Homo sapiens: one gene and its partners. The protein of the gene in region 2 interacts with the protein of the main gene of each other region in a biochemical or structural test. Each region holds a gene or a part of one and is shown on either strand. Other genes may lie near its edges.

Region 1 (3,114 bases), on a different chromosome or scaffold from region 2:
TTAAACAAAACAAAACAAAACAAAACAAAACCTGATGCCTTTGTTTCCAGATTTTTAGATTTCAAAAGTGGGGTTATTTTGTTATGAGAAAAGACTCTTACATGGAAACCAAAGAGCTGATTTTTTTTAAAAAAATCTTTTTTACATTATGTTCTAAGATAAAGCAAGGATGGGAGAATAGAAAAGAACTTTTAGACAACAAGAACAGCAAAAAATTTAAAGGAAATAAAAGTTTAAGATGCTATTACCAGCAAGTTTTTTCACTTATGTTTGAATGGATTTCTGCTAAGAGATGGAGTAAGTTTTTAACATCAGACTGAAAACACCTTCCATTTCTTGAAAACTATTCTAAACTGGAAAGCCTTAAAACTATGTCCAGGGTTTGAGATATGTCTATTTTAATATAGTAAGTACTTTATGTTCCTTTAGGGTATAATACACGCATCAGAATGCCCATAGAAATAATCCTGAAAAAGACTGACTGGCCTTCTCTTAAAACCTGTTATTTTCTTGCAAGTAATTTACAGAGTGTGTCAAATGAGGACACAAGAAGCTTACAATGTGTACTTTAATTTTTTTTATTTTTTCAATAAAGGGACAAAATGGGTGTATGAACAGGTTAATGCAGACAACTGCCAAAAAAACACAGACAGTGGTTTTTCCAATAGAACTTAACAAAGACCAGAAACAAATACAATAAAAAGCCAGGTTGTAATGACCTTTGGTCATCTAAATAAAAAAAAAAATAAAAACAAAGAAAAATAAAAGATCAAATTAAGTGCCTCTGTTTTGAACAGGGCACATAAGCAATAATAAATAGTGACTCCCATAGTAAAAGATAAAATTTCAAGTTACGACAAACAGCTTTCATTACAGGAATAGAAAAGGCCAATAACAAAATATTCTGCATTGCCATTTACAAAAAAGTATTGACTAAAGCGGGCTTTCTCTTTAATATGCTTTGCATATGAAATTCTTTCCAATCTAAATATAAAGCACCATTTAGTTTTTGGCAATGAAAAAAACTGCAAAACATTGGTTTTTTTTTTTTTTTCCTTTTTTTTTCTTTCTTTCTTTTACTGCATATGAAGGTAAGATGCTGGAATGTAGGGTGATAGAAGGAAAGGGACAAAAAGCACACTACATAACAAACCAACGTTATTAGCTTGCAGTACTGCATACAGTATGGCAGCAGGAAAAAGGAACAAAAAAGGATATGTACAACCCCTATGACAGCCATCCATGTGACATTCTAGCAGGCTCCCCCAAACCGCCATTATATGGCTTCTCATCTGTAATGTCACACTTTTTTGTTTCTCTCTTTTTTTTTTTTTTGAAGCATACAAATAATTTGCACTATATTATCCTGCCAAATTAAAAAAATATACTGTGGCAGCCTGTCTTTTTTTTTTCCACTACCAAAAAAGGTACATTGATACCTTTTAAGAGAACAAGCAACAGTTAAAAATACAAGCTTCAATATAAATACTATAGTGCCTAACACTAGATGAACATTTAATTCAAATACCATTCTAGAAATACAGAAAAAAGACCATAAATGTATTTTAGCATAGGAATCAACATGAGTGTGCATTTTCCTATATTTAAGTACTATATAATCTTAAACCTTTCCCCAATGTATGTTTTTTTTTTTTACAACCTGAAGAGCGGTGTGTATCCAAGGCATAGAATTTCCACTACCATTTTTAAATGGATAACAAGTCTTGTAACACCACCAAGACAATGGAACCCTAAAATGCAGTTCCCCCCTAAACATAATGAAGTGTTTTTTAAAAAAAATTTTTCTTAACATTTATATTTAAAAAAGTTTTGTACAAAAAAATCCTTGCACTGTAGAAGCGAAAGCAATCATTCATTTCTATGTTAAGTGTATTCTGTTTCCATTCACAGCGCTTGCAATGTTGCGTCCAAGTAAGTAAGCTCAATAGTCAAGTAAATGGCTGGCAAAGTTTTTTTTTTTTTAGTTTTTAAAAAATGCTCCTCAATGAGATTGTGTTCAATTTTTTTTCAGCATTCTTGCAACTTTTCCCTTAAGTATAGACCTGTAAACTGGGAAAATTGTACAGTGCACTTAATTGTCCTATCTGAGCAGGTTTATTTTATACTCAACCTCTGTATCTCTGATTAGAGAAAAGATACAGATATCACAGGCAGAGTCAAGTGCTATTTGAACACCAACTGGGGCAGATGCTAGCTTAATAAAAAAGAAAAAATTAAAAAAATAAAAATAAAAACAATGAATCCTCTTCCATGTTAACACAAATAGCACACAGTGTATGGAAAAGAAATGAAGTACAACTTTTAGGGAGCACAGACATATATACTGCTACTCTTAAAATTCTTTCTCTTCTTTTTTTAAGAATGTCACATTTAAATGCAAGTCTTAAGAATTCATAGTTAATCATCATTGTATCAATATTAGCTTATATACCTGTTCTAGTTTTAAATGGCAAATAGTACCACGTTGTGCTAATAAATCATATTATTTTCTTCTGTTCCCCTCTGTCAAACCTTATTGTCAGCCTCTTCCTTTCAATATGGTATACAAGGTCTTAAAGTTTATCATTTGATTGTCCACTTGACAACCAAGTAGATCTGGATCTATTTCTTTTGGTGCCAGTATTTTTAAAAAGACATTATTAAAGCAAATATCTTCATAAAATGAACTCCTTACTAGTGTATTTAATTGCGTTCCAGGGCTTTTGCACATTACACATTCAATTTAATCATTGTTTAAAAAAAATAAAACTTTGGGCAAAACAGCCCATTTCTTTTAAGCTCTCACCAGGAGCAAAGTAGCTTTTATACTGGTATAATCAGTTTTGTTTATAAAATTAAACTAAAGGAAAAATGATGATTAACTAGGACATAATGGGTCATCTTTTTAGGTAGCCATTGTTGTGAGAAATACAATATAGAATTATATGCTAGTTCCTAAGGTTTATTACCTCACCCAATGCTGAATTAAGCTACAAGTTTATAACAAGTAGAAAGAACCATCGATGTGGTTTTAATAGATCCAAGGCACTCATATTTTAAAACCAAATGATAGAATAAACTTGTTCTGTTTTTCTGTTAATTTGTCAATTCAAG
Region 2 (3,653 bases):
GTTGCTGCTCTCTCCCCACCACCCGCAGGAACAGAGTAAGCGGGGCGTTGGGGTGACTCACACTCGGCCTTGATGGCCGCGCTGTTGATGGGCAGGTAGGGGTGCCGCGCAGCGTGCCACGGGCGCAGGATCTCACGGCACAGGCGCCGGGCGATCCGCGTCAGCTTCGTCGTGTGCAGATAGAAAGCCTGCCTGGTCTTCATGGCAAACTTGGGGCTCCCGCTGCTCCGGGCTGGGAGGCCGTGGGGACTCTGCGGAAGGGGGCGCAACCGCCCCAACACAGCGCCATGACCGGGGGCCGAGGACCCGCGTGGCCGACAGGCTCATGGCAGGCAGGGCGGGTGTCCCCCCCCTTACCATGTTACTGCGGTTTGGTCCTGGCCTCTCTCCATCTAACCGGGTTGGCATTTTCAAGCCACCATATTTCTTCCAATATGTCCAACAAGATGCGCAGAGACGACACTGCATGTTAGGGGGACCCCAAGAATACCACTGGTAAGACTGTGTGGCTACGGACAACAAAGTTGGAAATAGACGGATTCTTAAGCAGAACCAGCGATGTCAGAGTATTCCCCGCCACCCCCACGCCGGCCGCCCCCACCCGCCAGGCACCCCCACACGTTCCCCGAGGCTCTCCCAACCACACCCCTGGGACGCAGCCCCCATCGTCAGTGGGCCCCTTGCAGGCTGGGCCATGCTGGAGCCCTCAGGGCCAACGCAGGCACCACGGCCCACAGGCGGGCGTGCGGTGTGCCCCCGGCCATCCAGGGCACTTACTGTAACAGCTCTCGCAGGCCCGGCCAGCCCCAGGGCTCTGGCCCGGCGCCCCCGTGCCGTTCACCACACCGGCCTTGACGTTGTTGACGCTGATTTGGTTCGGATTTGGCTTGTTACTTAAAGAGGGAAAGGAGAGACGAGAGGAGTTGCAGGAGCACAAACCTCGAGGGCCCATGTGCCCAGCAGGCACCGCGGCTGACCACCCCTTGTCCAGAACCACGTCCTCGCACCCCTCGGCCTCGGCAGGGATCTTCCTTTCTCCCCTTTCAGTTCCTGGGAGCCACTGCTGAGGTCTGAGCCGTTCTCCAGGCCCCCGTGCTCCCCCTAGCATGGAGCCCAGCTCAGGGACTGAACCCTGGCGGTGTGGGCTGGAATCCCAATGCCCCCTTACTGACCAGGAGGCCAGGACGACAGAGACATGGCCACTGCGTCTGCAGCCAGAACCCCCCAGCCCTGGGCCGCCCTCCCGGGGGCTGCCCCAACTTTCCCAGCCTCTGAGCTTGAGTTTCCTTGGGACCCGCCTGGCCCCAGCACCCTGTGCCCACCCTCCCTGGCCCCCGGGGCCACGAGGACGACGGCTGTGAGGGCACACTTACTAGTTGGGAATATAAACTTGCTTTAACTTGCTCTCAGCTTCAGCTGCTTTCAAGCGTTTCTTAAAACAAAAGAGAAGGTCAGAGGTCAGCAGGCTAGGCCCAGGTTGGGGCTGCAGTGCAGACAGGCTGGAGGCTACGGAGAGGAGAGCACCACGGAGAGGACAGCCGGGCCAGGGACTCAGGAGTCTTCCTTCCCCTCCTGCTGCAGCAGTGCACGCCCACCTGCTGGGAGAGGATGGGGCGCAGGACGGGGAGGCGGCACACCCCGGGCACTGAGTGGCGGGCGGGCTCACCTGCTGCACGTATCTGTCGGTGGTCTTCCACATGTAGTAGTACTCAATGATGCTGGTCAGCGACTTCCACGGGAGCTGGGTGGGAGGAGGCGTGTCACACAAGCAGGAAGGGGCAGGAGGCAGGCACACCATGCAGGCAGGGGCAGGGCTGCGGCCAGAAGGCCACAGAGGGGGCGGGAGGCCAGAGGGCGAGGTGTGCTTGGTGCACGGAGGCCAGGCCCCTGCTGGCAGGCAGGTGCAGAGGGCAGCTGATGAAGCAGGTCCCCCCGCCAGATGCCAAAACACAGTGACGCCAGGGGAAGAGGAGCTGGCACAAGGTCAAGGTCGAGATCTTGCCGAGGTGGCACTGACAACCCAGCCTCCATCTCAGCCTTTTTTTTGTTTGTTTTTGAGACGGAGTCTCGCTCTGTCACCCAGGCTGGAGTGCAGTAGTACAATCTCGGCTCGCTGCAACCTCTGCCTCCCGGGTTCAAGCAATTCTCCTGCCTCTGTCTCCTGAGTAGCTGGGACTACAGGCACCTCTCAACACACCCGGCTAATTTTTGTATTTTTAGTACAGACGTGGTTTCACCATGTTGGCCAGGCCGGTCTCGAACTCCTGACCTCAAGTGGTCCACCCACTTCGGCCTCCCAAATGGGATTATAGGCATAAGCCACCATGCCCGGCCATCTCAGCCATTTTTGTTTTTGAGACAGAGTCTCGCACTGTCGCCCAGGCTGGAGTGCAGTGGTGCGATCTCGGCTCACAGCAACTTCCACCCCCGGGGGTTCAAGTGATTCTCCTGCCTCTGTCTCCCGAGTAGCTGGGACTACAGGAGCCTGCCACCATGCCCGACTAATTTTTGTATTTTTAGTAGACATGGCGTTTCACCATGTTGGCCAGGATGGTCTTGATCTCCTGACCTCATGATCCTCCTGCCTCGGCCTCCCAAAGTGCTAGGATTACAGGCATGAGCCACTGCGCCCGGGCTGTGGCATGGATTTAAGAAACCTGTCTTATTAAATAAGGGTTCAGATAGTTCCTCAGTCTGGTCCACTGCATCTGGCAGGAAGGAGAGCGGGGCCTGCTCCCTCGACACAGCCCCGAAGCTGCAGCCTCCCATCCCCGCACCTGGACAGGGCCCCGCAGCCGCAGCCCCCCGAGACCGTGCCTGGGCATGGCCCCGCAGCCGCAGTCCCCTGAGCGCTGCCTCGCTAGGCATCACGTGGGCTCAGCACTGGGGTCTCCTCCGCTGGAACCATGTGCAGCAGGGTCTCCCTCAAATTCCGCCCTGGTCTGAGCCTAGTTGGTGAATTTTGTTTCTAGCCCTCGTCCTCTTGTCTGAACATGTTCTGCTCATCTTGGTTTGTTTTTAAGCCTGGAGAGATCCGTATCCGCCTTGGAGAGGCCGCTGGCCCCAGGGACAGTCAGGGACTCCTCCCGCCCGGCCAAGCTCTCCCCTTGGCCAGAGGCCCCCACACAAAGCTGCACTCCTGCCCCCAGCAGATGCGTCCTCAGGAGCCTCACAGCTGGCTGCTGTCCCTCCTCCTCTTCAGGTCTAGGCACCCTACCCAACCCCATGTTTGTTTCTTCCGAATTCCAGATGCGTCTCCAGCCTCTGCTGCGCTGGCCTGTGCGCTGCTGCCCGGATGGTGCTTTCATCAGATACTAGCCACCCCGCTGTGTCCCGGCCCCTTTGGGGCTCCTCCCTGCCCTGCCACAGTCTCCACCTCCCCAGGGCTGATGGTTGGGGGCCCCACCACCCCCACATAGGGATGCTCTTCTAACAGATTAATTTAGAAGTATTTTAGGAGGGCTGACGGTTGGAGGGTGGGGGTCCTGAGGTGGAGGTACAGGGAAGGGAGACCCCACGCCATGAAGACTCTCTAGGCCTGCTGCTGGGCTAAACTCACGTGAGACAGAAAACAAGGACATGAGGAGTCAAGAGGTTCAGCTTAGTCAAAAACAAAGCAAAACCAAGCCTGGGGCTGGAGGGGGCAGCAAGGA
Region 3 (3,653 bases), on a different chromosome or scaffold from region 2:
ATCAATACCCAAGGCTTTGTTTGCTATTGAGAAAAAGAATAAACAAAATAGTGGACACTCAAGTATTTATAAACACAAAAGACTTACTGTGATATAGAAGTGTAACGAAATGCTGTTAACAGAATATTCTTGACTTATAGAAAGGACCCTGTTAGAAACTACTTTGTACCCCTGCCAATAATGGCGTGGTTAAGTAATTTGAAGAATACCTTACTGGCCCAGAGCTAAATAAATATACACTCCACCTCCCTCAACTCCTTCAAATTTAAAGTGAGCTTGTTATTCAACAACAATAAAAACTAAATTTCTTCAAAATACAGAAGAGAAAAAGCAGTGTTTAAACCCAAACACCATTAAATATTTTTTCTTTTAAGTTTTTATTATTTAAATACACCATACTAGAGCAAATGTCTCTGAAAATATCACAAATAAAAGATTTTTTTTTTTCTTCATTCAGCAAATTAGAAGTAGGGGGAATTTTCTACACAGTAGCTGCTATGAGCCTGATTTTTTTTTCCAAATTTTTTTCTTTTTTTCATTCTTTTTTTTTTCTTTGCCATGGGAGTAGCAACATTAGGACAAAAACACTTACATGCATACATACATTGTATTTTACAGAGATACAATAAGTGTTTGTGATAGAATATCACAAAAGCCACATCTCTTTCCTTTATCTCATGGTCAGTTTTGATTGAAACACGTTTCCTTACAACACTTAAATATACAAAGAGCAAATAGAATGTTGTTAAGGTAAAACACAGGGTACAAACTCTGGCCAGTGCCCTGCTAATTGTTAATGAGGGTAGAAAGCAGATTTGAATGCTTCTTTTAATTAGCTTCATTAGTCATTTCCCTCCCCCCCAGCTCCCTCCCCCTCCCCAAGATGTCCTCTGGTGGATCTTTTTTCATTTTCTCTACAGTCTCCCATTAGCCCAGGTTCATGGAGTCCTTAATGTTCATATTCAGTCATTTTAATACACCAATAAATGCGGGAAGGGCAATCAAGACTAAAGAAGGTGCAATGGCATGGAGCTGGCACTGGTGCTAGCTACAAAGGTGACTTGTCTACTGAAGACACATGGGATCCACCTGTGATGAACAAATCTGAGATGAAGGCACGCATTCTGCATTACTCTGACCTTTTAGCAGACCTGCAAGAAATAAAAACGGGCATCTTAGCTAAAATGCTAAATTTGAGAGATATTAAACTCAAACATGACTGCTTTTGTCTTCCCCACATTCACTAATCTTCTTTTATTAGATTACTTTCCAACTGTGACTTGATAGAGGCTTTCTATGCTACTTACTCTGGCAGTGAAGAACTAAAGCATAACATTTTCTGCAGTTTTACTAGCAAAGAAAATGAGACAGTAAATGGACGCTCAGAAAGTTTCTGGTGTAAAGTACTACAATTAATTGCTTAACTCTGTTAAGAGCAAGTGTCTTTCCAAAAGGAATGTAACATCTTGCCCAGCAGTGGGATCTTGAATTTTTTAAATAGCGGGGACATTCCAAGACAAGTTCCTACCTAGGAAGTTTTGGGTTCATATGCTTAACCGTGTAACCTTTTGGAATGTTGCTTAAACTGCTTGTGTCTCAGTTTCCTCATCTTTAAAGAAGGGATAATGACACTGTTATGATAATTACATAATACATATGGGAGCACTTTCAACAGTGCTTGGCCCTTAATAAAAGTTCAACAAATACTGGCAGTTATCATTATTATTCCGATATCCCCATGTGAAAAATATTCACCCATATTGGTACTACCTATAGGTGTGTGTCTATATGAAAATTTCTATGTACAAATATTCACATATTTTTCACTATTTCTTATCTGCTATGTCACTTAATAGCTACACAAATATGTGATTCAATACATGCAATGTGTTAATGACCTGTGATAGATAAAAGAACATAGTTCAATGCAAGGGTGGCTTCAATGTCTAAGTCAGAAATGGAAATCCACACACTTGTCAAATACAATCTGTTTGCAATTACCAAAATGAAATAATACATATTAGGTTGTTATGGTTTTTAAATGACATTTTGAGCCTCCCAGGAAGTTCTCGTTTCACCCTTTCCCTAACTTACAAAAAGCCTGTAGTCTATTAGGAACTGCAACCCCCTACTTCCAAGCTAATTAAAGTGGTGAAGGCTTAATTCCCCAGAGTGGAAGCTCAGTGTGAGAAAGGTAATTTGTCTGTCCAGAACAAAGATGCAGCAGCAGCCAGCAAGCATATTTAATAAATGAGCATCAAATGTCTTCTACGATGGACACACACAACACCAATTATGTAACTATGGGGGAACTGCGAAGTGACATGTAGACTAGAACACTCACTAAATTTTCCTCCAACTAAAGAGATGTGATCTAACTCCTGTTCCACTGAAAACTGAAAAGCACAGGTAATTCTAGATGGCACCATCACACTTTTGAGTGGAAGAAAAAAATTCCAGAACAGGCAGCAATCTACAAAAGAAAAAATTAGCCACAATTCCTGATTTACATAACCCTCTAGAAGGCAGCATTCTCCCAAAGCTAGCCAAGCCTCCTTTAAGTGATATAGGTTATAAAATGTTGTAGATCCTTGAACACTAGTGGCCTGAGATTTCAGTCCATCTGAAATGCAAGATTTCAATCACTGTATGATTTAAAAGCTTAAAATTATTTTTCTTGGAATATACAACAGCCAATGATGCAGAACAACAACTACACTACACAGCCCAGACCCTGGGAACAAATCTCAGAATAAAAGTTTAAAGGGACCAGACAATGGGGGCCTATGTTTTCCATGCAATTAACTGCCTTTAAAGAAGGGATGTTCGAATAATCAACTCATTGCTTTTAAGCCAGAGGATCCTTGAGTATATTTACCACGCATAATACACCAAAAATGTAATTGATTCTGCGAATAGAAGGAAAATGGCCAAAATAAATGTCCAATTTTCCCTACCAAAAATATGGAGAACGAGAGAGGAGAAAATAATAAAACGAAGCCATTTGTCATTTCTCCCCATCTCATTGCCTCCAGAAAAGAAACGCCACAGGGTTTTGGGAAAATAATTTTAAAGCCTCTCCAGTTCCAAAAAGCAGTTTATGTTCCACCAGGAAGTATGTTTTCATTAACTCTTCCCCCTTGCCCTCTCATTAATATCTCTCTGGACCACGTTCAGCTTGCCCAAAACCTTTATTTATAAAAACTACCTTGTGAATTGACCGTGCTCATGGTGAGCTGGGCACCAAGGGCAAAAATGTGAGACACTTACGCCAACAGGGAAATGTTCTTAATTAACAGCACCCCCAAAACACAGCTTCTCACCAATGTCTGACAAGAACATTTCCATAAGTTGTATTTCCTTATGCCTTTTAAGAGCTATTAATTTTTGAAGGCCACCTGTCTCTTTTTTGGCCTCCAACATTAAGAAAACATACACTAATAGGTTCTTATTCATTGCCTAAAATATAGTGTTCCAAAATGAATACCCTACCACTGCCATCCTGGAAAAGGTGTGGAAAACAGATTTCAATGAAAGGCATAAGACATGTAATCTCATCAACAGGTAAACCTGGTTTTTCTGCAGTTCTCCTCCCTAACACCTCTAAATTTATGCCATCTTATACTATAAAAGATGGTATGAAATCCTGCTCA

Evidence for each region.
Region 1: the proteins of MTA1 (region 2) and BCL11A form a complex in vitro, tested with the Homo sapiens proteins (one study listed by BioGRID).
Region 3: the proteins of MTA1 (region 2) and LMO4 form a complex in vitro, tested with the Homo sapiens proteins (one study listed by BioGRID).

The regions. Positions count from the first base shown.
Region 1 is NC_000002.12:60,456,632-60,459,745, forward strand, and holds the end of BCL11A (BCL11 transcription factor A), read right to left. Parts: 3' UTR 563-3,114; downstream 1-562. UniProt on the Homo sapiens protein: Transcription factor. Associated with the BAF SWI/SNF chromatin remodeling complex. Binds to the 5'-TGACCA-3' sequence motif in regulatory regions of target genes, including a distal promoter of the HBG1 hemoglobin subunit gamma-1 gene.
Region 2 is NC_000014.9:105,461,272-105,464,924, reverse strand, and holds part of MTA1 (metastasis-associated protein MTA1), read right to left. Parts: intron 1,742-3,653; coding exon 1,667-1,741; intron 1,433-1,666; coding exon 1,374-1,432; intron 894-1,373; coding exon 778-893; intron 510-777; coding exon 358-509; intron 252-357; coding exon 62-251; intron 1-61. UniProt on the Homo sapiens protein: Transcriptional coregulator which can act as both a transcriptional corepressor and coactivator. Acts as a component of the histone deacetylase NuRD complex which participates in the remodeling of chromatin.
Region 3 is NC_000001.11:87,342,286-87,345,938, reverse strand, and holds part of LMO4 (LIM domain transcription factor LMO4), read right to left. Parts: intron 1,152-3,653; coding exon 1,143-1,151; 3' UTR 1-1,142. UniProt on the Homo sapiens protein: Transcription cofactor. Plays a role in establishing motor neuron identity, in concert with MNX1, acting, at least in part, to disrupt LDB1-LHX3 complexes thereby negatively modulating interneuron genes in motor neurons.